Homo sapiens: one gene and its partner. The protein of the gene in region 1 interacts with the protein of each later gene in a biochemical or structural test. Each region holds a gene or a part of one and is shown in the gene's direction. Other genes may lie near its edges.

The links.
Region 2: of the proteins of NSF (region 1) and PTPRC, one has a biochemical effect on the other in vitro, tested with the Homo sapiens proteins (one large-scale study listed by IntAct).

The regions. Positions count from the first base shown.
Region 1 is NC_000017.11:46,597,094-46,600,922, forward strand, and holds part of NSF (vesicle-fusing ATPase), read left to right. Parts: intron 1-3,829.
Region 2 is NC_000001.11:198,750,248-198,754,076, forward strand, and holds part of PTPRC (receptor-type tyrosine-protein phosphatase C isoform 1 precursor), read left to right. Parts: intron 1-244; coding exon 245-379; intron 380-2,001; coding exon 2,002-2,124; intron 2,125-2,346; coding exon 2,347-2,525; intron 2,526-3,829. UniProt on the Homo sapiens protein: Protein tyrosine-protein phosphatase required for T-cell activation through the antigen receptor. Acts as a positive regulator of T-cell coactivation upon binding to DPP4.

The DNA.
Region 1 (3,829 bases):
TTGTTCTTTTTGCCCAGGTTTGGTTTGGTTGTTTGGGCTTTTTTCTTTTTCCTTTTTTGGTCCCATATGAATCACATTGGTATTTTGATAGGGATTTCATTGAATCTGTAGATTGCTTTGGCAATATGGTCATTTTAGTGATATTAATTCTTTCCACAAGCATAGGATGTTTTTTGATTTATTTTCTTTCATTGGTGTTTTGTAGTTTTCTTTGTAGAGATCTTTCACCTCCTTAGTTAAATGTATTCCTAGGTTTTTGTTTGTTTTCGGTAGCTATTGTAAATGGGATTGCCTTCTTAATTTCTTTCTTGGCTAGATCCTTATTGATGTATAGAAATGCTACTGATTTAAAGGTTTTCTAAACCTACAGATATATAATCAGCAAAGAGACAATTTGACTTTCTCTTGTCCAGTTTGGATGCCTTTCATTTCTTTCTCTTGTCTGATTGTTCTGGCTAGGATTTCCAGTACTGTGGTGAATAGGAGTGGTGAAAATGGGCATCCCTGCCTCATTCCAGCTTTTAGAAGAAAGATCTCACCTCTCCTCATTCAGTATGATGTTAGCTCTGGGTTTGTTGTGTATAGACTTTATTATTTTGAGATATATTCCTTCTATGCCTAATTTGTTGAGAGTTTTTTTAATCATGAAGGGATGTTGAATTTTATCAAATGTTTTTGTTGTTGTTGCAATACTCTTTTTTTTTTTTTTTTTTTTTTTTTTTTGAGACAGAGTCTTGTTCTGTTGCCCAGGCTGTAGTGCAGTGGCGCGATCTTGGCTCACTGCAACCTCCACTCACTGGGTTCAAGCAATTCTCCTGCCTCAGCATCCCTAGTAGCTGGGATTACAGGCCTGTGCTACCACACCCAGCTAATTTTTCTATTTTTAGTAGAGACAGGGTTTTGCTATGTTGGCCAGGCTGGTCTCGAACTCCTGACCTCAAGTGATTTGCCTGCCTTGGCCTACCAAAGTGCTGGGATTACAGGCGTGAGGCACTGAGCCCGGCTGTTGCGATACTCTTAATGGGTTTTATATTTCCTTTTTGTGGGGGACAGTTTATTTTGCATTCTTACTACTTTTGATATTCTGACATCATCTTATAAGTGGGATTTATATTCACTATGTAATTGAAGTTTTTTCCAATGAAGCACCGTATATAGTTTATCTGGGAAATTGGCTGAAGAATAAAATGTGTGATGTTATTCAGTGTACAGTTTCTAGGTCATCAGAAGATACCACTACCTTCCCACTACTGGAAAAGAAAAAAGAAAAGTTTTCCACAGTGCCTGAACTGTTTTGTATGCTTATCTTTTAAAATTGCCAGAAATCTCACTTACTGGAGATTCAGCAGTCCCTTTCTGAAAATACACATACTTTAGTGCAAATAAAGCCAGTGGATCTCTTTCTTCATAAGTCCTTAAACCTAGTCGAGGTCATCTGTTTGGCAGAGATAGGAGTAAGATAATGTGAAATAGGAACCAACGAGAGAGAACTTGCTTAGGAGTTGAAAGGGGTATGGAAAGATGTTAGAGGTAAAATTTGTCGAATCTAGTGTTTTGACTAGGGCAGGCCAGAATATTCAGTATCAGTATCAATATCAGAAGCTTTTGTAGCCTTTGTTTAGAAACCTAGTCATTTATAACATTTTGTGGGTGAATGACATCATTACCAAACAAACTTTCAGATGAAACTTTGGAACTCAAGCTGTAAATTGTGGATAGCTCATGTGCAGTACTACAAATCAAAACAAATACTATAAAGTGTTTGGTAGTCCATTTCCTGAATGAAAGTTTGTCCAAAGTATATCAACTTTCTGCAGTCTTACATGCAGTAGTTATTAGTTTTGTGTATCGCTTTAGTGGATATTTTTAAAAGTATCTTCAAATGCAATGAATTTTAGGAAACAAAACAATTCTTTAAAGCATCATTAGATAGCTTCTTCTTTCTGAAACCCAGAGGAATTTATGTATAGGATGACTCTTTTTTTCAAGTAGTTAAGTTAAGGTGCAAAAGTATAAGGTAAAGTATATTATCTTACCATTGAAAATTTTGGCAGTGGCAGAAGAGCGAACCCTTACAAATACCTTCATTGGGCAATACACTAAGCACTTGCTGTAATGCTTTTTAAAACATCTATACTCTGGCTGTGGTATTTTAAGTGAAAATCTCTCAGTGAGATACTCTTTCGTATTTTAGTACTGATATCCTTAATATTGCTCTGAGAGCTACCTTATACTGACTTCAGTTTCCTAGTGATTTAAACTACTAATTTCCAACTTATTTTTTTTTATAGTGAAAACTAAATATTCCTTTTGTAGATGTAACCATTTCTGGAAGCCCTAAGTATTTTTGAATGAGTATAATTCATGCACACTTTAAGAGATTTCAAGCATGACAAGCACAGTGAATAACATATATCCATGTGATTACCACTGAGGTTTAAGAAATGTTAACATATGATATCTGCTTCAGATATTTATCTTTTTAAAAATAGAACATTACAGCTGGGCATGGTGGCTCACACTTGTAATCCCAGCACTTTGGGAGGCTGAGGCTGGTGGATCACCTGAGGTCGGGAGTTCGAGACCAGCCTGGCTGACATGGAGAAACCCCGTCTCTACTAAAAATACAAAATTAGCCGGGCATGGTGGCACATGCCTGTAATCCCAGCTACTCGAGAGGCTGAGGCAGGAGAATCGCTTGAACCTGGGAGGCAGAGGTTGCGGTGAGCGAGATCACAACTCCAGCCTGGGCCACAAGAGTGAAACTCAGTCTCAAAAATAATAATAATAAATAAAAAATAGAACATTACAGATCCAATTGACTCTTCTTTGTATTGCTCCTTTTTTTTTTTTTTTTTAGTTTTATTTAAAAATTTTTTTTAGAGGCTGAGTCTCACTTGGTGGCCTGGGCTGGAGTGCAGTGGCGCAGTCATAGCTCACTGCAGCTTCACACTCCTGAGCTCGAGCAATCTTCCTGCTTCAGCTTCCTGAGTAGCTTGGACTAGCAGAGGTGTGCCACCACATCTGGCTAATTAAAAAAAAGTTTTTAGAGATAGGATCTCTCTGTGTTGCTCAGGTTAGTCTCAACACCTGGCCTCAAGTGATCCTCCCACCTCAGCCTCCTGAGTAGCTGTGGTTGTAGGTGGCAGCCACCACACCTGGCAGTATCCCTTCTTGAGACCACTGACCTTTCCCAGAAGTAATCACTGTCCTGAAGTTGGTATAGATTCTTTCTGTCTACATCTATGCATGTTTATGCTCAAAAACAATATATTGCTTTGTGTGTCTTTAAAATGTATATAATGGTTTTATGCTATATCTTTCTTTCTGCAACCTGCATTTTTCACTTAAAATAATTTTGAAATTTAGTCCTGTGGATATATAGTGAGCCAATTAATTCTGCTTAGCTACTCTGTAGTCTGTTTTGTGAATATACCACAATCATCTACTTTCTTATTAGAGGACAATTTAGGCAGTTCCAATTTTATTTTTCCCGGAATGTACATTATTTTAGTCGAGTGCCATTGCCACATTAGCGATATTTTGGTTAGTGAGGGACTGCAGATAGGAAGGTGATCCCAAAAGATTATAATGCCATATATTTACTCTACCTTTCTATATTTACATATGTTTAGTTACACAATTACCCATTATGTTACAGTTGCTTACAGCATTTGGTGCTGTAACATGCTGTACAGGTTTGTAGCCTAGGAGCAATAGGCTATACCATATAGGTTTGTGTAAGTACGCTCTATGATATTCATATAACGATGAAATCACCTAGTGACACATTTCTCAGAATGTATCCCTATTGTTAAGCAACACATGA
Region 2 (3,829 bases), on another chromosome or scaffold:
GAAAATTTGTTTCGCAAGATATGTTGTAATCTTGATTTCACATTATTAGCTAAGAATTACTATTATCTGTATAATTATTTTACATATAGCTATTACATTGTTTCTTGTAAGAAACATAAGAATATTACTATTTGTATGTAACAGCATTGATATCAAACTGACTATATTTCCAAATGGTTACTTTAAGAATCTACTGAGCTCTCTTCTGTAGTAACGAAGTCCCACCCTTTTTTTGTCTAAAAAGAGCTACTGGAAACCTGAAGTGATGATTGCTGCTCAGGGACCACTGAAGGAGACCATTGGTGACTTTTGGCAGATGATCTTCCAAAGAAAAGTCAAAGTTATTGTTATGCTGACAGAACTGAAACATGGAGACCAGGTTTGTACTTTTGAGGATTTTCTTTTAAGCCTTTCTGTCATAAAACGTCATTCTCTAGTCTTGGATTGCTTGCTTCATCGCCATACCCACGTCTTTTTTTATCCCTCCATCACATAATTCTGTCTGCTCAGTCTTACCCCTTTCACCCTGGTGTTGGCCTCCATCAGCTGTGTCTGGATTCTGACAGTCTCTCCTGTTTGTCCCCTCCAGTCTTGCATGCTGCTCACAGATTAGCCAGGATGCAGCAATGTCAGCGTCACAGCAAATAACAGCTACATTTTCACGCTGTTTTCCTCATTTTCTCAAGATAAAAGCCAAGATCTTTTTGTGATATCCAGCACCCTGGACAATCACCCCCTCATGTGTCTTTCATCTTCCTCCCATTTTTATGTTTTCCATCCTCTCCACTCTGGACAAGCAGGTTTCATGCCCAAGCCTAAACACGCCATTTGCATTGTCATCACTGAGTCTAAACTTATTGATATTCCATGTAACTAAATGTGTGCTGTCTTCCAGTTTTGACCCTATTCTTTTAACAAGACCAAACTCCTGAAAAATGTATCTATATCATCCTTTCTTTATTCCCATATAATATTTATTGCCATAAAAGTCTATAGTTGAAGGTGAATCTAAGCTATAATTTGATTTTTTTACTTAATGCTTGTGACAGATATTTTATCCTTTTCTTAATGTCTTCAGTTATTATTAAAATTTCCCTGGTGGTAGATCTCACTCAGCTTTAGCACCAACCACATTATCTGACATATGTTCAAGCCTATTCAGTGAATAACCTTATAAGTATGCAAAAGATTTATGCTTTTTTATGCCCCTCTCTCTCCCCTAAATCTCACTCTTTCTCACCCTCACCTGGTCCCCTTCCCCTGTACATGGAAAGTTGCTTTTTATGTTTTTTGTTTTAAAGGAATATAAGTCCAGATTTCTAGCATGGAATTCCCACAATCCTTTCCTTCATATAAATTGTGAAAGCTGGGAAACAGGATGGAAGTACCGGCAGGACTCCCTGTCTTTGTCAGAAATTGTGGGGTTGTAGTTGGTAGACAACAGTTTGTAGTAAGAAGAAACACTTTTGTGGTTCATCTACTCTTCAATCTGGCCCTTTCCTTAGCTATGTAGACAAAATATATAAAGCTGCTTATGGTGTTGGTCAACAAGATGACAGAGACAAAGCTCCAAAAGATGCAGCCTCCTTCCTCAAGAACCACTGAAGGGACAGTGGGACCTGAGTTATTGAAAGGGTCATGAATAACATTGACTCATGCCAGCCATAAATATTGAAGAGGTCATGATAAGCATGTGGAAAAGAGGAGCAAACCTCAAAGACCTACACTAAGGAAAACAGCTGTTCCGGGGGTGTCCCAGTCACCTCGATTGTGCTCAGCTTCCCTTTTCTTACACAAGGAAACACCACATATTTATTAAATGGGTCGCCAGCACTTAAATAGATTCTGGATTTTTATAAGTAGGTTTCAATTTTAGAACACAATAATTTTCATTTAATAGAAAAGAGGCACAGACAGAGAAAGAAAGGGAGAAAGAGGGAGACTGATCCTTTGCATATTTCAAATAGGAAACAAATTGTTGAATTGTCTTCTTTTATCTAGGAAATCTGTGCTCAGTACTGGGGAGAAGGAAAGCAAACATATGGAGATATTGAAGTTGACCTGAAAGACACAGACAAATCTTCAACTTATACCCTTCGTGTCTTTGAACTGAGACATTCCAAGGTATGGAAACAATTTGGGGAGTATATTTCTTTGATATAATGGATCTGGTAGCAAAATGAATATAAATTACTCTATGCAGGCAAGGCCATCATATAAATAATGTTTCAGAATAACATTTTAAAATTATTTAAATAGAAGTAACTGTGAAGAAAATATGACTATCAAATTAGAAAATAAGCTGAACTTCACTCCAGTTAATGCTCTCTTCAATTCTGATTTTAGAGGAAAGACTCTCGAACTGTGTACCAGTACCAATATACAAACTGGAGTGTGGAGCAGCTTCCTGCAGAACCCAAGGAATTAATCTCTATGATTCAGGTCGTCAAACAAAAACTTCCCCAGAAGAATTCCTCTGAAGGGAACAAGCATCACAAGAGTACACCTCTACTCATTCACTGCAGGTGCGTGGGATTTGGTAGAATGTGCTCTCAAAATCATAATGCTTGACTTCTCGGTTCACATGTTGTCTTATCTAGTTATCCTCATATATGAAACACATAACCACAGTAAAAACTTCTTATGGAGTCGGTCACTCTCTTGGTTGTTTCCACAACACAACTATTGTAGAAATATAATAGAAGTGATTATATTATAGTGCAATAATTTTAAGTTGTGTTTTTTAATACTTGGTGTCATGTCATCTTTGATTCCTTGGTAGCTAACATTGAGCCAGGAATGTCATTTGTGTGAATGAATTAATGAATGGAAGGGTGTGTGAACAGATAGGTAGATGGGTATCACCTTACACATATACCCATATACATTGATCTACTCTATTAGGTGTCACAAAGACACCTAATATGTTTAATGAACACAAAGTTTATTAAACATATTTTAAGTTAAATATTAACTGAAATCACAAAGCTTAGCAATTTTGATTTGAAACTCATTATTTAATTTTCTAAACTGAACCAAAGGCAAAGATTGTGGTAATATCAATAATACTACTAGATTTTATTAGTTTCTTCATCTGTGATAGGTGCTTACATATTCACCTTAAATAAGCAATATAATTGAAAGAAAGATATATAATATAAAAGTTTACATGAAAAAGAATATTGAAGTAAATGAGAAACGAAAAATAGTAAAGTAAAATGAGAAATGTTTATCTAGTGAAAAACTTTTGGAATTTTTGAAAAAGTCTAATTGTTATTATTGGAATTGCATATACTAGAATCAAGCCTTAAGAAATATATGAATTTTCAGCATTTATGTGGAAAGAAAGCTGAGGAAGGGAAGTTTACACTGTAAAACTATATATGTTTCTTAGAATATGATTTATGTACAATAACTAAAGTGTCCTGCTGATAACATATTGTTTAAATTGAATCTTTATGATAATGCTTTATACTTCTCATTGTTTGGTAAACTATTTGATTGCCCTCTTTTTAGTGAATAATTCTACTAGGTATTACTTTTCTACTGATGCAGAAGTGAAAACATTTGTGAAACGTGGTAGAGAGGCAGAAGAGTGAAGAAGAGCATGTGTTCTAGTAATTTACAAAATATTAGGTCTAATATTTCTGATTACATCAGCTTTCTCTTCTCCAAATCTTGGTTTCCTTATCTATCATACTGGCATTCTGATATTGGTTTCAACAACTTCAGATGTAAATAAAAATGCATTAAAATCCATAAAATACTAAATAAAAGAAAATATATTTGTAAAGTCGAAGACAAATAAGTTTTCAATTCCAGGATTATC